3 separate regions of the Homo sapiens genome follow, and all the other regions are linked to region 3. A link means that fine-mapping ties the variant in region 3 to the plasma level of a protein whose gene starts in the linked region. Region 3 holds a variant in brackets. A gene starts in each other region. All regions are shown on their forward strands.

The links. PIP is the chance, under the fine-mapping model, that this variant and not a neighbour inherited with it causes the effect. The UK Biobank Pharma Proteomics Project read protein levels with antibody pairs (Olink). The fine-mapping took linkage between variants from a reference panel, not from the people measured, so its PIPs are less certain.
Region 1: it holds the start of F13B, and the variant in region 3 is fine-mapped to the plasma level of the F13B protein (UK Biobank, PIP above 0.99).
Region 2: ERI1 starts here. The variant in region 3 is fine-mapped to the plasma level of the ERI1 protein (UK Biobank, PIP above 0.99).

Annotation. Positions count from the first base shown.
Region 1 is chr1:197,062,292-197,070,475 of GRCh38, forward strand. It overlaps F13B (coagulation factor XIII B chain), which reads right to left and starts at 4,969. Exons shown (of 12, transcript NM_001994.3): 1 at 4,869-4,969; 2 at 566-766. The coding sequence starts at 4,932. RefSeq lists an enhancer at 6,077-7,276.
Region 2 is chr8:8,996,319-9,004,499 of GRCh38, forward strand. ERI1 (exoribonuclease 1) reads left to right here and starts at 6,579. Exons shown (of 7, transcript NM_153332.4): 1 at 6,579-6,853. The coding sequence starts at 6,746. It overlaps LOC105379227 (a long non-coding RNA gene), which reads right to left and starts at 6,424. Exons shown (of 3, transcript XR_002956680.2): 1 at 6,343-6,424; 2 at 894-1,010. RefSeq lists an enhancer at 2,392-2,451.
Region 3 is chr6:6,314,852-6,323,021 of GRCh38, forward strand. It overlaps F13A1 (coagulation factor XIII A chain), which reads right to left and starts at 5,811. Exons shown (of 15, transcript NM_000129.4): 1 at 5,736-5,811; 2 at 3,684-3,831. The coding sequence starts at 3,813. All of the region lies in intron 1 of LOC124901253 (a long non-coding RNA gene), which reads left to right. The variant C/A (reference allele first, on the strand shown) is at 3,711.

The DNA of each region.
Region 1 (8,184 bases), not on the chromosome of region 3:
GGAAGATCATTGATAGTTTGATGATAGTGTAGCCTGATATAAAATAATGAAATGAGTCAATTAGATTACCTTCTCACAACTTTGAACTCAAACTTTCAATTCAAAATTGAAAAACACATTTTTCAATGGGTATCATGAGAGAAGTTGGCACATGAAGAGAGATGAGTCTTACAAATGATAAAGCATTAGAGTAGCAATCTTGCCCTTCCAGAGGCCAGAGTTTCAAGCATTTTTCTGGCATCTTATGCTTAATTATCAAAATAAGTTTCTTGTTACTTAAAGTAAATTACCTCTCTTTGCCTTGCAATATGATAATTTCAGTTATTACCCTATTCCCTTCAACAGAGTATTATTAAAAACAGATACAGAAAATAACATTTTAATGTAAAAGCATTATTTACTGGATTTCAAATTATGCCTTCATTTTGTAGAAAGACAGATTGCTAGTGATTTTGTTCTTATCTACTAAAAGGTTTAACCGCTTTCCATTTTTATTGGACCCCTATTTTTATATACAAATTTCTTTGAGTATTGAAACATTGAGTGACATATCCAGCTGACTTACTGAAGCACCTTGGCTCTGGAGACCAGCCTTCTGTTGTACACGTGGTTTGCTCTTCTTGTCTTCCACTTTCAGTGGTATAACCAGCCAAGCAGAAAAATGACAATTTTTTGTCTATGCTCATTGGAAAGTAAAAGCTTTTAAAAGTATAGTAATATTGGGCAATTCTTCCATTTTCCACATGAGGAAAACCACAGGGTTTCTCTGAAATGAGTAAATGTCAAGCTGAAAATGGAAAAACAAATCTAAAAACATAAATTTGTAATCAGGTGACAATACAAACTAAAAGTTTTTAGAGACACTTCAACTAGTACTTATTTTTCTTACTTAAATTTTTAAGGTACTTTTGTGACAACTCAAGCAGTCCTTTTATCATAATTGATCTGCAAATGACTTTAAACATCCAACAGTCATGATAAAATTTAGCAGACCACTTTTTCAGGGAAGCTTTGCATAACTTCGTAGAACAGTACTTTTTTTTTTCTTCCTAGACACAGAGTCTTCCTCAGTTATCCAAGCTTCAGTGCAGTGCTGAAATATAGCTCACTGCCACCAGGAGCTCCTGGGCTTAAGCAAGCCTCCTCTCCTGTAGCTAGGACTGCAGGCACATGCCACCACATCTGGCTAATTTTTGTTTTATTTTTTGTAGAGATGAGGGGTCTCACTCTGTTGCTCACGCTGGTCTCAAACTCCTGGACTCAAAGGATCCTTCTGCTTTGGCCTCCCAAAGCACTAGGATTACAAGACTTGAACCACTCCACCCTGCCTGCACTTCCTAATAGATATGTATTGTAAGTCACTTATGTAATTTAAAAATTTCTAATAGTCACATTCATAAAAATACTAAGGAACAATTGAAGTTAGTTTTAATAATAGGTTTTTATTTAACCCAATATATTGAAAATATTTTACATTCTTTTTTTTTCTAACTCTTTAAAATCCACTACATATTTATACTTACAGAATATCTGATCTTGAACTAGTGACATTTTAAGTACTGTCTCCAATAGCTATATGTGGCTGATGGCCACTGTATTGGACAGTACAGTTCAGGAATAGGTAAAGTTTCTCCTTAACATATGCTAACTCATAAAAAATTTTGAAATAAATAGCATTAAAAGAAAAAACAGACAACCAAGTAAAACAAAGCAATACTTGGCAAGAACTTGGCAAAATAGGATATTTAAATGGTTAGAGACCTGGTACTTAGCATTACTAGTCATCAGGGAAATGAAAATTTAAACCACCATGAGATACTACTGCATATCCAATAGAACTGCTGAAATGAAAAAGACAAGCTATCTCAATGATTGTGAAGAAGTGAAGAAACTGGAACTCGCATATTTCTACAACTGAAAGTATAAATCAGTCCAAACTCTATGAGAGAACACCTTTGCAATATATATTGGGGTAAAACATGTACAAACCATATTACCCAATAAAAAAAGCACATATTTGTATACCAAAAGACATGGAAAAAAATGCTTATAGTGGCAGTATTCATATAGTCCCAAACTGGGAACAATCTAAATGCCCATAAATAATAGAAAAGATAAACACATTTTAGACTATGCATACAATGGAATATTATCCAACAACAGAAATGAACAAATGGTGAATCTCATAAACATAATATTGAGTGAAAGAAGCCAATCACATATGAATTAATGTATACATTTGCATAACTTTTTAAAAGAAAACAAACTAATCCATGATAATAGAAGTCAGAATGGTTACCTTTGGGGTTTAGTGCCTTAGAAGGATCATATTTCTGGGGTACTATCACTGTTCTATATCTTGATCTGGATGGTGTAAAATTTTGTAAAAACTATATAAGTGTATCCTGTGATTTTTGCATTTTTCTGGATATGTTATACTCCAAATAAAACATATATTTTAAAAATATATCTTTATGTTGAAGATCTTAAAGTCATAAAAACACTTAAAAGAAAGAAATGCTCGAACAATCCTAGGAGCTGTGGTGGGAAGAAACATGGGCAGTCATGGATGGAAGAAGGCCTAGATCCAGTGTGATTACTACGGCTTCAATGCCTTGGTTGATCACTGTATACCTTAATGCTACTATGAGACATAAAATACTAGTAGTGCTAGCCTAGGTTTGAAGGAAATGGATGTGGAATGATGAGCAACAAAACTTCCACTATCTGATGGAGCAGACAGAAAAACATGGGCTGGATAGTCCCCATTCCTTGAGAATTATTCTCACCATTTTTTCACACCCAAGCACCAAAGGAATTTACAATAAAAAGAGTCTTCCAAAATAGCAGTGCAATGGTGAATACACAAGAAATTTCCCTGAGGGGCACAGTTGCTTGTCAGGGAGGGGCAGCAAAGTATTCTCTGCACAACAATCCTAGGTTGTGGCTTTAAAGACTCTCTGTCCTGGGACATCTCCCTCCACCACCAGGATAGGCACATTATTTGTTAAGGTAGCTGGAATGCCTTGGAGAATATGAATTCCTGACAAAAAATTAATGAGAAATGTGAGGAATATACTAATCACATATAAACCAGGAAATCACAGATGTCTGAACATATTAAAAAAAGTACATGAAGCGATGGACACACTTACTACTGATCAGAGAATGGTAAATAAATAAAAATGGGATATCACTTTATGAATAACCATATAGCAACCAGTACAAAAATGGACAATATGAGGTGTTGGTGAGAATGATGAGGAGCAACAATTTACATCCTCTCTCAGAGATGATATACTTCAAAACTGCCATTCTGCAAAAGTAATCTCTCATTACAGAAATCAAGTACAAGAATAGACTCAATAATGCTATCTGTGAGTGAATACAGACTGATGACATTCTTACAGAAAGATAAGTTGGTTATATTACAATATTCATTCCAGAGCTATTTGTGGTTGAGAGAGCTAGAGTAACATGTTAAAACATTGTAGTAGGTCCCAGGGGAAATGGACTTCAAGATTAGGAATAAGGGGATAAAATGTGTAAGTAAAGCAAGAGTGAGACCTTTCATAGGCCAATAATACTTGCATACCATGAAATGAGAAACACAATTAATTCAATTCTTGTCCCTGAAGTGCACAATGGGAGTTGAGAGAAGCATGCAAAAATAAAATCATTGTCTTGGTCTTCAAGCAGCTTACTTTTTTTTTTGTTGTGTAAAATAGCATTATAACCTTATAATAATTAGAAAATTAACTAGAATATTGCAATGTCTTTATGGTATAGATAACAGACAATTATATCTGCTGGTATTTCCCTATTTAGACAGAAAAATAAAATCAAAAGAAATTCATGCAAAAATCATCCTATTATAGAATTAAAAGTATAAAATAAGATTAATTCTGTGTCTTTCACTTTTATAATTTTAATTATAGATGTTTTGGTAGAAAATTTATAGTTAACTATTCAACTAAAACACAGTTAAAACTTATGTATTTAATTTCAACAAATTCCCAAAAATGTTTATTTTAGAAAAGCTGTATTGCTGTAGCTTCCTTCTTTGTATGTTCACTCTTGCTAATGCTAAGTGTCCTCCCTGGATTCTTCATCCTATGGCCTGATAATATTGATAATGTTCCTGAACAACATACCCATGTACACTGCCTAGCTTCCACTCGCACACTAATCTTACACATTGGGCAATCTGACTATAAAGCTTTCTAATAGGGAGTCCATAGGTATTGGTTTGTTTGGAAAGTCCTGATTTACATGTGTTGTCCAAACAGTTATTAATAGAGCCCCTCTTTTACTCTCTAAGTGTCCCTGTTTGTACAAGCAATTATATGGTTCACCTACTAATCACTACTTAATGTCTCCAACAAATGAATAATTCATTGTGATAAAAATCAAAGTCTCAAAAGTAAAAAATATTTATGGCTATTTCCTTTTCAAATTTCCCACATTAAACTCTCACCTTATGAACAGAATTAAAATTGTACAAGTTTTGTCAGTATTAGGAATGGATTCTAGCATAAATTTAGAATTAAAGTTAACATGTGACTTCGAAATGGACATATTGTTAACCTGAAAACCTTTTCGAAGTATTTAGATCCTGGTCTCCTATGCCCCCTAGAGATACAAGGGTTTTTGTTTTGTTTTGCTTTTCTGACTTATGCTACTGTAAGAACACTTTACTAATTTTGCTCAAAGGAAAAGGTCTAAATATTATAAAAAGTTATATTTATAAAATATGTTATAAAATTGATAATGAAAATAGAAGAGTATATTAAAACTTGAGTTGTATAAATATTAGAATCTCCATTTGTATGTTTTAGAGAATAAAGAATATTAAGAATTAATTTTACCTTCTGCATAGAGTTCTCCTGAGATTATCAATATGATGATAAAAGTCAGGTTTTTCAACCTCATCTTCAGTGGTGTGCTTCACAAAGATTTTAACAATTCTAAGCACTAGGAACTTGTCATTAAGTACACAATACTTCTCTTGAGGAAAAAGTTAATAATTTATAACCTCTGTCTAAGTCCTTTTGTAACGAGTCTTATATTTCACTTAAAATATTTTGAAATAATGTTAAAATAACACAACTATATTAATTGACATTACTTACCATGTCAGAGTCCAGTAAGAGCATGATAACTGATTAGGGCAACAATAGCAGCAGAATAAATAATAAATTATAGCAGCAGAATAAATAATACTAGGTAAATTTTCAACCTAAGTTCCCAATTGTAAATTCATAGAGTAAAGTTCACTTGAGGCCATAGATCTTTACTAATATTGATCAGGTAAAAAGATGAACTTAGGAACATGAGATAACAGATACCTGATGTTGAAATATGTTGTTGCCTAGACTGCACTCCTTAAAGAGATACAGAACCATAGTTGTCTCAATGATAGAATAGTATTACTTATAATAGTAGTGTTTGACATTTAGAGAGTTTTTACTTTGTGGCAGGTGGTGAGATCAGCACTGTGCTATATCAACATTCATTCATGAGAAATGTTTAGAACGTCCATGATAATGGCAGCACATGTAACAGTTTTGAGGTATTTAGCAGTGAAAAAACTGGATTAAAATTATTGCCCTCATGGAGTTTACATTCTAATGAGTTTTAATTTAAAATACAAAATAGGAAAAAATGGTGGATAGGAGGCAGGACTAACTTGCAGCTCCCACTTGGATGGACAGAGCAGGATGTGGAGACTCGCATTGTGAACTTTTGCTCCAAGAACTGCTGCAAGGATATAACAGGAAAGCCAAGATAATCCACAGACCCTCTGAAGAAAGTATATTGCTCCTGCATGACCCAGAAAATAGCCCACATACTGTGAATGCCCAAACTGTGAAAAGTGTGAAAGGGGTATTGTCCACCCCTGAACACACACCCTTGGGGAACCTGAAGGTCTAGATCACAGGAGAAGGATTTGACCTTACCTGGAGCTCAGACAATTTAGAGAGCTGAGCGAAATACAGGGGTAGAGGAAGCAAAGGGTAAAGCCCCATCGTCTCTGTGGGTCCCCAGAGAAGCCATTTCTGACTTGTCTCACAGGGGCTGCCGGAGGAACTGGGAAAAGACCACAGGGAGAAGGAAACCTCCAGCTGAACTTAGTAACAATTCCAACCGAACACAAACTTTCCTGTCCAGAACTCAGGAAAGGGCGTGAATCTGGTGTGCAGACTTAACAGGTAGGGAGGCACAAAAGTCTGGCTTGCATTCTCAGCTGGGAGGCTAGTAGCCTGGGGCAAGTTCTCAATCCTGCTCCCCTACTGCCTGGAAACAAATTCGGTGCTTTTTGGGGGAACACAGTAGAAGTGAGATTTGCTTGTTGGGTTGTGTGAGAGCTGGGTGAGGTCTGTAACTGCCAGCTTTCCCCCACTTCCCTGACAACCTGCATGACACAGAAGAGGCAGCCATAATCCTCCTGGGAAGGTAACTCCATTAACCTGGGAATCACACCCCCATTCCCCACAGAGCCACAACAAGCCCCACCCAAGAAGACTCTGAGCTCAGACATGCCTAACCCTGCCCCCACCTGATGGTCCTTCCCTACCCACCCTGGTAGCTGAAGACAAAGGTCATATTCTCTTGGAAGTTCTAGTGTCCCACCCACCACCTGATCCTCCCCTATATACCACAGCTGATGCTCTCATGAAAGCACTACCTCATGGCAGTGTGTCTGGAATTGGTTCCTTCCAATGGGTTCTTGGTCTTGCTGACTTCAAGAATGAAGCTGCGGACGCTTGCGGTGAGCATTACAGTTTTTAAAGATGGTGTGTCCGGAGTTTGTTCCTCTGATGTTCAGATGTGTCCAGAGTTTCTTCCTTCTGGTGGGTTCCTGGTCTTGCTGACTTCAGGAGTGAAGCCGCAGACCTTCACAGTGAGTGTTACAGCTCTAAAAGATGGTGCGTCCGGAGTTGTTTCTTCCTCCTGGTGGGTTCGAGGTCTTGCTGACTTCAGGAGTGAAGCCACAGACCTTCGCGGTGAGTGTTACAGCTCATAAAGGTAGTGCAGACCCAAAAAGAGAGCAGCAGCAAGATTTATTGCAAAGAGCGAAAGAACAAAGTTTCCACAGCCTGGAAGGGGACCAGACCAGGTTGCTGCGGCTGGCTCGGGTGGCCAGCTTTTATTCCCTTATTTGGCTCCGCCCACATCCCGCTGATTGGCACATTTTACAGAGTGCTGGTTGGTCTGTTTTTACAAAGTGCTGATTGGTGCATTTACAAACCTTTAGCTAGACACAGAGCGCTGATTGGTGTGTTTACAATCCTTTAGCTAGACAGAAAAGTTCTCCAAGTCCCCATTCGACCCAGGAAGTCCAGCTGGCTTCACCTCTCAGCAGGAGGCCAACCAGCACCAAACTAGTGCATCAAACAACTACAACTAAGGACCCTCACAGAGTTCCTTTCACTCCCCTGCCACCTCTACTGGAACAGGTGCTGGTATCCATGACTGAGAGAACTGAAGACAGTTTACATCACAGGACTCTATGCAGACAACCCCCAGTACCAGCCCAGAGCCTGGTAGCCCTTCTGGTGGCTAGATCCAGAAAAGTAATAATAATCACTACAGTTTGGCTCTCAGGAAGTCACATCCCTAGGAAAAGGGGGAGAATACTACATCAAGGGAGCACCCCGTGGGACAAAAGAATCTGAACAGCAGCCTTGAGCCCCAGATCTCCCCTCTGACATAGCCTACCCAAAAGAGAAGGAACTAGAAAAACAATTTTGGTATTATGACAAAACAAGGTTCTTTAACACCACCCAAAAATCACACTAGCTCATCAGCAATGGATCCAAACCAAGAAGAAATTCCTGAACTGCCAGAAAAAGAATTCAGAAGTTTGATTATTAAGCTAATCAAGGAGGCACCAGAGAGAGGTGAAATCCAACTTAAGGATATCAAAAAAATGACACAAGATATGAGCGGAGAAATCTTCAGTGAAATAGATAGCATAAATAAAAAACAGTCACAACTTCAAGAAATAAAGAACACACTTAGAGAAAAGCAAAATGTACTGGAAAGTCTCAGCAATATAATAAAACAAGCAGAAGAAAGAACTTCAGAGCTTGAAGACAAGGTTTTCGAAGTAATCCAATCCAAAAAAGACAAAGAAAAAAATTTAAGTGAATAAAGCCTCCAAGAAGTTTGGGATTATGT
Region 2 (8,181 bases), not on the chromosome of region 3:
AAAACTATTAAAATTTACAAGAAAGTTTAGAAATTATCCAGAATGTTCTGGGGATTAATAAAAAAAGAATGTTTAGAAATTAAAAACCATCAGGAGTTTGAGACCAGCCTGGCCAACATGGTGAAACCCTGTATCTACTAAAAATACAAAAATTAGCTGGGCATGGTGGTGCACACCTGTAATCCCAGTTACTTGGGAGGCTGAGGTGGGAGAATAGCTTGAACCTGGGAGGAGGAGGTTGCAGTGAGCCGAGATTGTGCCACTGCACTCCAGCCTGGGCAACAGAGCAAGACTCCATCTCAAAAAAAAAAAAAAAAAAAAAGAAGAAGAAGAAAAAGAAAAAGAAAGAAATTAAAAACCAATTTTTTGTCTTCAAAATTTTAATTTCTTTTTCATCAAAAGCAAGGTTACATAGAGTGAAATGCGTAGATCTTACATGCATAATTCAATGTGTTTTGATAAATATATACATCACATAATCACTATCCCAATTAACACATAGAATATTTCCAGGACCTGGAAACTTCCCTTGTGTACCATTCAAGTTAATCCTCAACCCCTAATCCCAAGCTGAAGCAGTCACTATTGTGAATTTCTATTATCATAGATTAGTTTGGCCTATTCTTGAACTTCATATAAGTGGAATTAGAGTATGTCTTCTTTTGCATCTGGCTTCTTTCACTCAAGATTTTTCCAAATTCATCCATACTATTGCATGTATCAATAGTTTATTATTGACTGGGCACGGTAGCTCACACCTGTAATCCTAGCACTTTGGGAGGCTGGGCCAGGTGGATCATTTGAGCTCAGGAGTGCAAGACCACCCTGGGCAACATGGTGAAACCCTGTCTCTACAAAAAATACAAAAATTAGCTGGACATGGTGGCATGTACCTGTAGTCCCAGCTACTTGAGTGGCTGAGGTGGGAGGATCACCTGAGTCCCAGAGGTCAAGGCAGCCACCATCCTGCCATTGCATTCCAGCCTGTGTGACAGAATGAGGTTTTGTTTCTGAAAAAAAAAAAAAAAAAAAAAGGCTTATTATTATATGAGGAGTATTATGCCATTACAGGGATACATCACATTCTGGTTATCCATTCACTTGTTGATGGAGATTTGAGTTAATTTCATTTATCAGTTATTTTGAAAAATGCTGCTGGAAATATCCACGTCCAAGCCACCACCTGGACATTCACTTTCACTCCTCCTGAGTGAATACCTAGGACTGGAATTGCTGGGTGATAGGGCCAATGTATTATGTTTATTTAATTAATTCATTTATTTATTCATTTTTGAGATGGAGTGTCTCTCTGTCACCCAGGCTGGAGTGCACTGGCACTATCTAGCATCACTGCAACCACCGCCTCCCAGGTTCAAGCGATTCTCCTGCCTTAGCCTCCCGAGTAGCTTGGACTCCAGGTGTGCACCACCAAGCCTGGCTAATTTTTGTATTTTTAGTAGAGACAGGGTTTCACCATGTTGGCCAGGCTGGTCTCGAACTCCTAACCTCAGGTGATCCACCCTCCTCAGCCTCCCAAAGCACTGGGATTACAGGTGTGAGCCACTGCGCCTGGCTCTTTGTTTCTAATCTGGTTGTCTTTTATTTCTTTGCTTTTGTTTATTTAACTTAAAAATCAATAATATTTTATGTAATGGTATAAAATAATTTACCATTCATAATGGGAAAAAACTCATAATGTATCTAGGATTTCTTGGTTACGAATGTACAAGATATCTATGGAGAAAATTGTGAAATGTTAAAGATCATCATAAAAGACAATCTGAATTAGCAGTTCTATATTACAAGAGGATAAATTAATATGTCATTTCTCCTCAAATCAATCGAGTGAATTCAATCTTAATGAATTTTTTGGATTGGATTGGATTGGATTTTTTGAAGAGCAAAAAATTTGTCCTAAAGTATACATGAAAGATTAAATATCCACAAATAGCTAAGTCAGTATTGAAAAAGAAGAGTAAAGAGGAGGAACTTGTTTTATAAGATATGAAGACATATTGCAGAGCTGAGTAATAGAAAGCAGTGTGGGAAGGGTATAAGAACAGATACCAGAGACCAAGAGAACAGAGCAGGTTGCTCAAATACAGACCTAAACATATGGAATTATCTAACACGTGGCATCAGGCAGCAATGGGAGACGGCTTAGAAACAAAAGGCATTTTGCTATGTGAAAGTCACATATTTAGTGCAGCCTAGAGTAATTTACTAACCCTGCTGTCTAACAATACATTGATCTTCACTGACAGCTGACTAATCCCAGGACACTGAAGCTAGAGGAAGGGTAGGTACATTTTTCCACTGGGGTGAATAGAGAATAACCAATTCTCGAACTTCTCTTTTAGACTGTTGCATAGCTGAAATACTCAGGGAAGCTTTCTCTTTAACTGTTCAACTATGGCACACATTTTATTTTAAACAGGAGGTGCTAAAGTCATTGGGATTTCCCCTTTGGTGTTATGTGGCAAGTTACAGCAGAGTCAACATTTAAAAACATCGGCCAGGCAAGGTGGCTCATGCCTGTAATCCCAGCACTTTGGGAGGCCAAGGCGGGTAGGTCACCTGAGATCAGGAGTTTGAGAGTTTCGCTTGGCCAACATGGTGAAATCCCACCTCTACTAAAAATACAAAAATTACCCAGGTGTGGTGGCAGGCGCCTGTAATCCCAGCTACTTGGGAGGCTGAGGCATGAGAATCTCTTGAACCCAGGAGGCTGAGGTTGCAGTGAGCCAAGATAGCGCCATTGCACTCCAGCCTGGGCTACAGAGCGAGACTCTGTCTCAAAAAATAAATAAATAAATAAATAAATAAAAACATTTAGGTCTCCTGCATACTGATGTCACACAGTCATAAGAAAGTACTGAACACAGTGATATTTCTTAAACATTTTGGGTACACTCCCAGCTCAGGATCTTTTCACTTGTTTACTCTGCCTAAACTTCTCTTCTCCCATATATACTCAGTTTACTCCCTTGCCTCTTCAAGTCTTTACACAAATGGCACATCATTAGAGAGGTCTTCCCTAACGATTCTATTTAAAATTGTAACCCCCTCCATACCTGGGCACCCTCCCATTCCCTTTTCCTGTTTTACTTTTCTCCATACTATAAGCATTTTACTTATTTCTTTTGTTGATTGCCTGTCTTTCTTTTTCTTTCCTTCCCTCCCTCCCTCCTTCCCTTCCTTCCTTCCTTCTGTAGAGATGAGGTTTCACCATGTGGCCAGGTTGGTCCTGAGCTTAAGTGGTCCTCGCACCTCAGCCTGGCAAACTGCTGGGATTACAGGTGTGGGCCATCACGCCTGGCCTTACAGTAAATTCTTGATAAACAACCCAGCAACTGCCTCTTTCCTTTAAAAATTCACTTGTAGCTTCTACTGATCTGAGTATACCCAGGGCAACTTGAATCTACAATTGCAATCCTCAAACTTGGCCCAGATAAACTCTACTTATATTAATTTTGCCTCATCTTCCTTTTCGGTTATTTCATGCATGTTTCACTTTGTTCAACCTTTAATAGCTCAAACCAGAGTCTAAAGACAAAAAAAGTTACTGCACGATAGTAATTTTCATGTAGCTATTTTCATCTAGCTTGTATTTTTTTTTTTTTTTTTTTTTTACTATTTTTTGACTGACTTCGACTATTTTCACCTAGCTAGGATTTTTCAGAAGGGACATTCTTTAACTGTGTCTCACAATCCAATTTCCTCAGAGAAACTTCTTGGAGTTTCCCCAGCACAGCTGCTCATCATAGGCTTCATGGACAAAAGCCTCACTACTTATTAGAGTATCTTCTTCTGGGTCTTTTTATTTATGGCAGGTCTAATTTCTTGATGCTGCTGCACTAGTTCTAGAAGTCAAAGAAACAAAGTCAAAAGAGTTGTTTCTTGAGATAGAAGCTGAGATGGAGGTATGTATGGTTAGAAAGGGCTACTTAACCCCATCAAAGATTATTGTTATTGGAATTATGCCCTATCTCAATTGCCTATTTAACAAAGCAAATAATCTAGAATGGGCAAGACTTAAGACAATTATGATTGGTTACTAAGTGTTCACTTAACTTCCAAACTGGCATATCTTCTGAGTAGATGGATTCAGCACAACTTCAATTCTATGCTCCTGGGTTGCAATCCTCAAACTTGGACCAAATAAACTCTCTAGTTATATTAATTTTGCCTCAGCTTCTACCTTTTAGGTCAATAGTATTAAGCCTCTTCAAGTGGTCCTGAAGTATTAAGCCTCTTTAAGTGGTTACTGAAGCTGTATTCATCTTTTTTCTGTGTGTGTGTGTGTCATTTTGTATTGTTTCTGTTGCTATATCTTTGAATTTATTTACCTTTTTCTCTGCATTGCTTAATGCGCTAGCAATCCCATCCAAAGAAATTTTTATTTCAAATATTTTTCACCTCCATCCAGAAATTTGATTTTTCAAAAATCTTTCCAGTTTCTCTCCTATCATGTCTTCCTTTAAATCTTTGAGCATATTCATAACAGGTGTTTAAAATCCTTGTCTGTTAATTCCATCATTTTTATCATTTTGGGGTTTGTTTCTATGAACTTCGTGAGATATTTTCTTACCACTTGGTCTCTCTCTCTCTCTTTTGAGACAGAGTCTTACCCTGTCACCCAGGCTGGGTTGTGGTGGTGCAATCATAGGTCACTGCAGCCTCAAACTCCTGGGCTCAAGCAATCCTCCCGCCTCAGCATCCCCAAGTGCTGCGTGTCTTTCAATTTTTGACTGGATGTCTCACATTTTGAATTTAATGTTGTTGAATCCTGGATTTTACTGTAGTCTTTCAGAGAGTTTTAGAATTTGTTCTTACAGGTAATTAGGTTACTTACAGAGCAGTTTGATCCTTTCAGGGCTTGTTTTAAGGCTTTTGAAGAATCTACAGTAGTTTATGTTCTGGGTCCTGCAGTCTACGGTTATTATATCTCACTAAGGCATGACACTTTCGTAACCACCCAAAAGGTTCATCTTGCCTACTGCCTAGACAGAGTCGATTTATCAAGACAGGGGAATTGCAATAAAGAGCAATTCATGCAGAGCTGGCAGTGCAGGAGACCTGAGTTTTATTAATCAAATCAGTCTCCCTGAGCATTTGGGGATCAGAGTTTTTAAGGATAATTGGGTGGGTGAGAAGCCAGTGAGATGGGAGTGGTGACTGGTTGGGTAGGAGATGAAATCATAGGGAGTCGATGCTGTCCTCTTGCACTGAGTCAGTTCCTCCCGTGGGGGACACAAAATCAGATGAGCTAGTTTATCCAAGATCAGGTGAGTCAGTTTATCAATCTGGGAGGTGCCAGCTGATCCATCAAGTGCAGGGCCTGCAAAATATCTCAAGCACTGATCTTAGATTTTACAATAGTGATATTATCCCCAGGAGCAATTTGGAGAGGGTTAGAATCTTGTAGCCTTCAGCTGCATGAGTCCTAAATCATAATTTCTAATCTTTCGGCTAATTTACTAGTCCTACAAAAGCAGTCTAGTCTCAAGAAGAGGGTTTATTTTGAGAAAGGGCTATCACCTTTGTTTTAAACTATAAGCTATACACTAAGTTCCTCCCAGTGTTAGTTTGGCCTACGCCTAGGAATGAATAAGGATAGCCTGGAGGTTAAAAGCAAGATGGAGTTGGTTAGGTCTGATCTCTTTCACTGTCTCAATGATAATTTTGCAATGGCAGTTTCACATCTGAGGTTTCTATTGCGTGTTCCATGGTATTCAATAATCTCTTCACTCTGGTTGCTGGGAGCTCAAATGATTCCCAGTTCTGTGTGACCTCTCACCATTGTTTGGTGTACTGCTCCCCAGTAATTGTTCTTTCCTGGCCTTGTGGAGTTTCACGTTTTTTATTCAGTTAAAGATTCAAGGTACTCCTAAGCAGATTTCTGAAGCTCTTTTTCCATGTAATTCCCTCCTCTCCAGAATTCTGCCCTACAAATTCCAACCGACTTGGCCTACCCCAATTTCGTCAACTCCAATCTCTGTCTTTTCAACCCAGGAGATCCTAGGTTTCCATATGATTTCCTTTCATCGCACCACAGACTGGAAATCGCCTCTGGGCAAAAGGGCAGGATGATATACGGCTCCTTTTATTTCTTTTCTCTCAGGTAAAACAGTCCACAGCTGTCCGTTGTCCAATGTCTGAATAGGTGTCTCCTATATTTTGTTCCGTTTTCTAATTGTTTATAGTGGGACACTAAGTCCCGACCCATTTTCTTTTCTTGCCCAGAGTGGAAGTTTTAGGAAACTCCTTATGGAAAATGTGAATTGTTTTATTATTTTTTATGGTCGAAAACATCTTTCTCTATGATATCTTCCCACTCACCCTACTTTTTTCCTTCTCAGGAAACACTGACGGGAACACACGTGCCGGTGCTACCCTCCAGTGACTGGACTAGATCCTTGCGCAACTTCAACCCGCGCTAGCTCCGCCTACGGCCGGCCACGCCCCGTCTTCTCACCGGCGCGCCTCCCTCTTGTTCGTCCTCCCTCCCCCTGTGGACTGCGGCGCTGGCGTTCCGCGCACGCCGGCTCACTGCGCCTGCCCGGCGTGTGGACGCCACACGCTCCCGGAAGTGGGAGGTGGCCGCTGGAGTTTGTGTGGCCGCCGCCGCGGGAACGCGAGCCCGGTAATTTTTCAACGGAGAAAGGCGAGGCTTTCGGGCTCTGCAGAGTGAGAGTTAGCAAGTGTCCGGCTCCAGCAACTCTCCTCTGGCGTGACAGCCGGCATGGAGGATCCACAGAGTAAAGAGCCTGCCGGCGAGGCCGTGGCTCTCGCGCTGCTGGAGTCGCCGCGGCCGGAGGGCGGGGAGGAGCCGCCGCGTCCCAGTCCCGAGGTGAGGAGTCGACCCGCGCCTGGCTGTTGGCGCCAGCTGCCCCGTCCCCAAAGCGCCCTCGGCACCCCTTTCTTCTCAGGTGTCCCGCAGAAGGTGCAGCTGTGCGCCCTTGGACCCCAGCCTCTTCCTCGGTGCCCAGCTCCCTGGCTTTATCCTCGGGTGGGTGTCTTGGAGCCCCCTCAGGGCCGAATCACTCTCTGGGAGGGAGGAAATCGTCAAGACCAGTTCTGTCTACAGTGGGTTAACAGGTTCTAAGAGGGAGTTTTGCTTTAAACTTAATTCTGTGTTCACGGTTGCTGTTGTCACTCCATGTAGCCGTTATGGGTAGTTTGCAAGGCTTTATGTTTTTAAAATCTCACCATATACGCTAGGTATGTCACTTCATGCCTGTTTTTAAAAAAAGAAAAAATTTAAAAAGCACTCACCAGCATCCCTGTCTCTGTACCTGTTAAGTGGAGCTTCGTCTTAGCTGCTTTTGCTCATTAACTGGTGTCTCATATAACCATAGTATAAGATTGAATGAATCATTTTGACATCTCATCGGTTGAACTTAGTTACAGTGGCAAAGTTGTAGAACAGTCTTAAAACTTATTTAACGAATGTTAATTGTTGACTAGCGCTGCGGATTGTAAGTGATTGAATACTAAAATTGATCTTTTCCTAATAATAAACATGTTGAACACTTCGTAAAGCTTCATAAAGTGCGTATTTGCAAGAGGCCTCCTAACTCTTGCTCCTTCCGTCCACAGTCAGTTTCCATCTGGCAGCTAGAATGAGCTTTTCAATAACATGAATTTGGCTTATTCCCCTCCTGAGTCACTTCCATTTGCTGCTCTGCGGGGTCGGGTGCCTGCCTCCCTTGGTAATTGCATCTCACACAGTTTTTTCCCTTTTGTTCCCAGTGCCCCTCGCTGCCTTGTGTTCTTTGACATTGGAAAGAAGGTCTCGTTAAGGATCTCTGTATGTTCCTTTTGCCCTGTGTGCACTTCCTTTGGATCCTTGCAATTATCTTTCTCCTTCTAAGGTTGTTATTTCAAAGAGTACTTGCACATCCCTTCTCTTGTAAAGAACCACTCTTCCACCTGCCTCCCTCTTCAGCCTGAGATACGTTGTCAATCTCATCCTGTAAGTGGGTTTTAAAATAAATTTCGAAGTTTATTTTTAGTAAAAGAAGTGTGTTTGAATATGCTTCTTTATATTTGAAAGTCTTGACACTTTTACAGCTACTTAAGGCCTAGGTCTCTGTTCCAAATTGGCTTTAGTGACGGTAGTAATTGTTAAAAACTTACTGTTGCATGCTCTTTATAGTGATACTTTTTTTTTTTTTT
Region 3 (8,170 bases):
CTCAGTCATACACTGAATGCCTCTTAGTCTCTCAGTAACCTTCAATCCAGAGAGGTTTACTCTGCACAAAGAGGAGGTTTATCATTAATTGGTTGATTTAATTCTGACAAGGAGTGGTGGGATGGAGGAGATTCTTAGAAAGGTATAAGACCCCATTAGCCTGAAAAACTACTAGAACCCAGTTTTTAAATAGGGCCAGGCTTGCTTTCCAGTTTTAATTCAATACAATAGAACTGTTAAATGATTCCAATTACTGCTACAAATGGTCGCCTATTGTTAACAATATAGAGCCAAAGCAGACCAACAACATAAGGTTTCTTCTGGAATATTACATTTCCAGCTACACATAACCTTTCAGACCAGGAAGGCAGTGGAGAGATTTTTCAGAAACACCAACTAAGCCTGCAGAACAGTCTATTAGAAATTGATACAAATCCAAATCTGAGGAGATCGTCTCAGTACCTTTCCTGGCTACAACTGAATTCAAAGGGTGACATTAAAGATGCCTAAAATCATGCAAAGATGTCAAACGCTACCACTGAATGGCTGGTCCCACCTCTGGGATTTCCGTGCCTACCTCAAATATTTCATTTTTTTTTTCTTGAATATCATGGTGTGTATGAGAGGAAACTTACATGAGTTTATACATTTTAAAATACAGATTTTACCAAAATAATTCTTAACCAAATGTTACCAAAGCCATGACTTAAGGGCGTTATATACACTCAGTATACCTTAGAACACTGTATATATCACACACAGTGATGGGCAGGACTCACTGCTACAGAACTATTAGAAATGAAAAAGCCGCCATTTCCCCCCTTTTCCTCTTCTTGCCTCTCTGCATTTCTCAGTCAGTATTACAAGAGCAGCTTGCTAACTGGAAGAGTGGCCACTGAAAAAAATGGAGACAAGAGTTTAACTTGGGGCTGGTGTTCCTGGAGCCAAAGTCATCATCCGCAGATTGGTAACCGCGGATACAAGGCCTCTTAGAGGCCACTAGTGGCCACTGGGTGAACTGCATGAAGATGGCATTTTAAAAATGAGTGTTCTTTCCAAGGTTTAGTCGCTTAGCAAATTTCGTCCCTTAGTGACTTGGAGAAAACTTGATATATAGTGCCAGAAAACCTGCTTTTAGAACAATTAAATATAAATCTGAAATGCAAAAGGTAACCAGGAGATAGACCTCCTTGTTCAGATGGTTTGTGTGCTGCTATGTGTGTGTGCATATATATATATATATATATATATATATATATATATATATATATATATATATATATATATATATAGTTTTTTTCCTGTCCTTCTCATCTGGGACTTGCTGTCATGATTCTGGGCTTCAGAAACCGTATCCCCAGAGCATGTAACACTTATCTTGTCTGTGAAAAATATTAAATGAATGCATATGTATGAAATCTGTAGCTTGTTATTAATAATAAATTATAATGCCACTAGAGCTATGAGTCATTCAATTCACAAGTGATTGACTGTTCGTTCATTCATTCTACAGTCACTGGACATTCATATTCCTATGCCAGTGCCTCTAATGGATATCCCAGAATGTCACTTGGGTTGTGGACACATATGTCTGCCAAGTAAATAATGACTGATTTTTTCAGAGTAATTCAGTTATGCTGCTCCCCACCTGTGCCTCCAGAAATCAACAAAAGCAGTAATCCCAGATTTTATTTTTCTTAATTGGCCTACCTGCACATGTTCTCTGACAGTTTTAATGTCTTACTAGCAGCATTTTGTTCAGATGTCAGATTTATGGGGGCTACAGGTCGTACATATTCCTCATAGGAACAAGTATTCCCTGGAGTGCTTTCCTGACCTTGCTGGGATATGATAAGTTGCACATTCCCAGTCAATGAACACTTATTGGTCACGTGCTGTGGGTCAGACTTGATCACAGACACTGCTCACTAGATGCTCACGACAATCTGTGAAGTAGGCATTGCTTCCATTTTGCTGATGGAGAAACTGAGGCTTGGGCACCAATATGACTTTCCCAGAGTGAGCAAGAAGTGGCAGATGTGGAACAGGAAGCCAGGTCTTCTGCCTCTGCTCTCTGCTTCCCTGCTTCCCTGCACTGCCTTTGTAGAGGTTCCCGTTTTTCCCAATCCTGGCAAGGGTGGCTGTGTCCTGACTCCTCGTGGCAAGGACGGTTGTGTCATTACTCCTCCTGTTCTTACTGCCCACTTCTTCCAGTGCCTACACCCCCTTTCCGGGGGCCCAGAGTCTTTTGGGCCACAGGGGAATTTTGCTAGAAGATGGAATACACAAAGGCAACCTGCTTAATAATTTGATATCTGTAGGCTTTTGCATTTTATTTGCATTCTTAAAGAAAAAGACTCGTAGACTGGGTAAGCAGTGAATATCAACTGCTTACCTTCAGCCTCTATTTCCTAACATATAACATGGGGATGAGGATTCATTGATTAGCAAGTCCTCTTAAACTCAGTTCTGTGGCTGTCAAGGTGGGGTTTTAGAGAGTGGCATCCAGCTGGGAGACAGATTTCAGAACTACAAGTTCGTCTTAGCCCCTCAAACTCTACCACCTGACTGAAGATGCCCTTCTGTTCTGTGAACTTCTTTTCCCAAACTTGGATGGTACTGGATACCTCCCTGATTTCACTATTTGATATCAAATCATCTAGTGTGACAGTAACACAATGACACCAGTCCACAACACCTGGGCAAGTGTCTGGCTTGCTGGATAAACTGCACTTCCCCTTTCCCTTTGCTATATGGAGAGCTGCATCAATCTGGGCTTTCAGGCATTGGTCTCCTTCTAATGAGGGGAATCGACCACACAGCTCCAGCATGACCATGCTCACCTATCCCAGCAAATAGGTGTTTATCCCCAGTGAAACCCAGCACAGAACACCCTTAGGAGTAAAATTAGATTTTGGTGCATGAATGTTATTGACAAAAAAGACTCCCTGCTCAATGCCACTCGGGGACATGAGTCTGAATGTCCCTGCCATGGCCCAGGGGAATGATGTCTGTATCACCAAACCAGTGCTGGCACCTGGACCTTGTCACCACTGACAGGGCTGAGAGGAGGTCAGCTGCCGGCTGCTGTACCCGGAACAGGTTTCTAGGGATCAGGCAGAGGCAAGAGGCTGGGGAAGCAGCTTGCCTTGCCAGCTCACCAGGCTGCTCTGGAGAGAAATAGAGGGCTTCTATCTCTATTACTGTCAGAGTCTGGCACTTCTCCCCGGCTCTGAAATTCACAGCAATGGATGGAGGAGGGAGGAGGGAGAAGGAAGGAGGTGCAAGCCAGACAATCAAAACAGCCACAATATTTTGGAAGTGGAATATTCCAGCTAGAGAAAATTCTCTAAAGCATTGAGCAGTAGGGCTGGAAGAGGCCCTAGCTAATCCAGCACTCTGGTTTTGTAGAGGAAATAGTTGAGAGGCAGAAAGACAAAGCAACTTCTCTGAGGTTACAAGGTCAGTAAGGGGCAGAACTGGGACAAGGCTCTGGGTCTTCGGTGCTTTCACCACTTAAAAGAAAGCTTTTGCTTTCTTCCTTTATAAAACCAGAGATTGGCAGGGGGCTTCCTTTTGTGGGAACCCCAGTGGAGACAGAGGATGTTTACCTGCAGGGAAGAGGGGCCAGGGCCCGGCTGTGCCTGGACCCAGAGTGGTGGGGAAGGGGGGTATGCTCATACCTTGCAGGTTGACGCCCCGGGGCACCA[C/A]GCCCTGAAGCTCCACTGTGGGCAGGTCATCTTCCGCTGCATTAGAGTTATTGGGTGGAACTGCTCTTCTGCCTCCAAAGGCGGTCCTGGAAGTTTCTGACATTTTTGACTTTACAAGGTCCTTCAGAAAAAAAAAAAAAAGAAGACAACAGAAAAGGCATGTAAAGTGAGTAACATTTGAGACAAGGATTCCAAAATAGAGAAACAGATATATCTGTGTGTGATAGCACTTGAGCAACACATTTTGCCGTTTGCATAAATAAAAACTGAGAAGTGGCAGCAAGGATTAGTCTAATGATGGAATACAGTTCCCCAAGGATCTTGGGGAGATTTTTGTATGTGTCAAAACATATGGAAAGCAGAAGAAAAGGGGCTTATTCAAAGAAATTTAAAAATTAAAAGATTTTTGGAGACCCAGATTCCCCCACCCTCCATAATCCTACAGCAGCATCTTCGCAAGAAATGTTTCCTGTTATATGCATGTGCTGTATCTATGTTCATTTCATACAGATTTATGAGATTATAAGTCACTTTTAAGAATAAACGCACACAACCATGTCCAGACAAATGTTGTCTTCTAAAGCGTTTACATTTGCAATTTAATTCAACCAATATTTATTGAGGGCCTATGACATGCCAGGCTGTGATCTAGGTACATGGGATACATCAGAGAACAAAACAGAATGTTTGCTCTGATAGATTATAGTCTGATAGGGTTAGGGTGGAGCCCAAGAAGAGCCATAAGTAAATCCACTTAGGGGTGAGGAGGTAGGAACTGCTTTGGAAATTGAGCCACATGGAGGAGGATAAGGAGGTGGAGAGGTTGGGCATGCAATTTTCAATAGGGCTATCAATAGGCTTAAGAAGTCAGGGTTGCCAACATTTCCCATTCCCCAAGCCTGCTTCCCCTTCCCTTGGAGCTTGTGCAGGCACTGAGCCAGTTTAAACAACACACACCTGACGGTCAGTGCCCAGTAAGTACTTGTTGACCAAATGACCAAATGAAGGGGGACTTTGTTTCTGGGCCCAGTGAAGGTTCCCCCTTGATCCCCTGGATTACCCAGTCATGACTCCTGGAGACTTGGCTATTTTCAAAAACCAGGCACACCCCCAAGAGGTGAAGAGTCCCCATTATAGAGGCCACCAGAGTAGAGAGATGGTTCCAGAGACATGTGGAGCACTAACAACATGCTGGAGAAAAGACAACCACGCCTAAGGTGTCTGGTCTGAGAAGGAGACAGGAGTGTTTGGATGCATAAGGTGTGAATGGGTATCCATAAGTATAGATAAATATATTTACAGTCATTGGTGAGCTGACGGGGGAAGGGAGGGAGAAGAGCGAAAAAGGGTTAATGATAGGGAGAAGGCTGCGAGAGCCATCCTCTAGTGAGAAATACCGAAGGTAGGCTGCGGCATTGCCAGGGGTGCAGAACAGTGTGGCGCGCTGTCGGGAGACACAGTGCTAAGGGGGAGAAGGGGGGAGCCCCAGGTGCACGCCTGGCTGGGTGAGTGCGGCGGGCAGGAGCCCTCGCTTCTGGGCGGGTCTAAGGAGGAGAAGTGGCTCGAGTTCAGCTCCAAATTGGGACGGAGGCAGGCGATGCGCAGGAGTGGGGAGGCGCGCAGGAGTGGGGAGCCAAGCCGGCGGGGTTCCAGTCTAGCAGGCTGTTCTCACTTGGCCCCACTCCCTCCACCTTTTGTGTTCCAGCTCCATAATCTGCTCCCTGAGGAAAGGGGGCTCGTCCCTTGGGGAAGCACCTCCAACTCCCCCATCCCCATTTGGTGGCATTCTAAGCAAGCAACGGCTTCGGGAGAGCTGCCTCGAGAGCCTGAGAGAAGTCCCGCTTAGAAGCTGGGCTGGGCAGGTGCGGAGTTGGGGGCGGGAAGCCAGGATTGGGCAAGTGGAGCTGCCTGTGACCGGCGCCACAGGGCCCAGAGCAAGCCGCTTGCTGGTTCAACCAGGAAACCGAGGTGCAGAAGGTGGACGCAGCGGGCCCTGGCTCATAGGGTGCAGGGTCGGTGGCTTACCTGCAGGCGCTCCCCTCCAGAGGTGCCCTCGCGTGGGCTTGCTCTGTGCGCCTCGGGGACTTCCTCAAACGGACTCGGGAAAGACAAGACAGTTGGCTCTTAAATAACTTCCTAAGAGGAGCCCTCACCCTCCTCCCCTGTCCCACAGGGTTTTCTCCTCCCCCTTCTCCACAGCTGGAGCCAGTAGGGGAGCTCAGAGGATTTTCTATTTACTTCATCTGGCCTGTTATCCCGGCAGGTGCGCCCTTCTCTCCCACTTGCCCCTCTGACTCCCAATTTCCCATTCCCACTTCTCCTCCCCATCCCCATCCCTAGATCTGCCCTCCCCACCGCAACCAGTTGCTGGGAGTACCAGGCAAGGGGCCCTGCAGTGCCAGGAAGTCCCCACCCGTCCCCTTTGGTCAGAGGGTCTGGGAGGGTTTCCTTTACAAAGGAATGCTTTTGCCTGGCAGGTCAGCTGCTACTGTGGCTTGGCAGGAGGGGGGTCTGCCCTCCCACAGACAGGTCACACAGACAGTTGTGACCATGCATGCAGTGAGAGCAACGTGTCCCTCCTGTGCAAATAAGGCATGGTCTGCATTCCTGAATCATCCCAGAGCCACAGCCACCGCCTAACCACAAGACTTCCTGCAGGAATGGGATGCCTAGCCCCAAGGAAGATGAGTAAACATCTTTAATAATGCCATGCAGATTAGAAAATAACACTTGGTTTTCTCTGAAAATCATTTTAGTGCATGTTCAAAAATTAGAAAATTTTCCCCCTAAAATTTTAATTTTTTTCTTTTACTCTTTCTTTCTTTCTTTCTTTCATCTTTCTATCTTTCAGATGAAGTCTTGCTCTGTTGCAAAGGCTGGAGTGCAACCTCCACCTCCCGGGTTCAAGTGATTCTTCTGCCTCAGCCTCCCAAGTAGCTGGAACTACAGGTGCATGCCACCATGCCCGCCTAATTTTTGTATTTTTAGTAGAGATGGGGCTTTACCATGTTGGCCAGGCTGGTCTCGAACTTCTGACCTCAGGTGATCCACCCTCCTTGGCTTCCCAAAGTGTTGGGATTACAGGCGTGAGCCACCGCACCCAGTCAAACATGGCTATTTCTAACCTTCTTTACTGTCTTCAAATTTCTGACCCTGCCACTCAATCTCCCAATGTTATAAAGAAGAAAAAAAAAGATGCCATTGGTTAGAAATTCTCTCAATTTTCTGCTACCAATCTATGAACCTGCCTGCAACCTTATCTATCTTTTCCTCTTTCTTCTTGTTACTGAAGTTGGAAAGGTCCCTCCTCCCTCTGCATCTCCAAACCAGGCTTCTGCGTTGCCTTGTTCTCCGGGGCTTTGCTGTGACTCTTACGTACTCTTCCTCTTGCAGCTTCAAGCTCCTGCTTGCTAATAGTGGGTCTTCTCAGCATTCATGCAATTTCAGGTCTCTTCAGTATTTTTTTAAAAACCTCCCCCAACCTATGTCCCCACTCCTGCTGTTACTCCTCCTCTCCTCCCCTTCATCACTAAGTATCTGCCATCTGGCTTCCGCCTCATCATTCTACTGAAAGTGGAGGTCACGGTCTCCAAGGCCTGTGCTCAGGCCAAAAGACAGGATTCAGTTCTTATTTACCTGACCTTTTGGAAGCATTGAACTCTGTCTTTGAAGGTATTTTTCCTAGGCCTCCTTGACATTGAACACTCTGTGGTTTCCTCCAGTGCAGCGCAATATTCCTTGATTGTCTGAGGAACTCCCATAGTTTTCAAATTCCATCTATATCCTGACACCTCCCAAATCTGGGTCTTTAGCCAAGATCTTTTCCAGAATTGCAGATTCCCGTATCTAAGTGCCTACTGGCTATCCTCATTTGTCACATCCCAGTGACAACACACGCTCATCATGTCTAACATGAGATGTATCACTTTCCTGGAAAACCTGGTGCATCTCAGGAGTTCCCTACCTCAATGAATACCATCACTTTGCACGCAGGTGGTACACCAGACACATGGGCATCATTCTTGAGGCTTCCTTGTTTCTCTCCCTCAATCATCAAATCCGATCCTTGAGCAAATATTTTCTATCCTACCTCTTAAACAGCCCTTGAATCTACCCGTGTATGTACCCCTTTCCAGTCCATTCTCTACAGTGCAGTCAGAATGAGCATTTCAGGGCTAAAATCCGAAATCAAATTATTTGCACAAAGCCCTTATATGGCTACTTCTCTTTGCTTTTTGGATAAATTGCAAGCTGAAACTGACAAGGCCTATACAAGCTGGACCCTGCCTCTAGCACTGCTCTTTCCCTCAGCATCCATACAATTTGAGGTCTCCAGTATTTTTAAAAAACCTTCCCCCAACACCAATCTACCCTCCCTGCCTTCCACTGTTGTTTCTCCTCTCCTCCTCTTCATCACTAAGCTTCTGCCATTTGGCTTCCATCTTTCTTCCCTATCATCT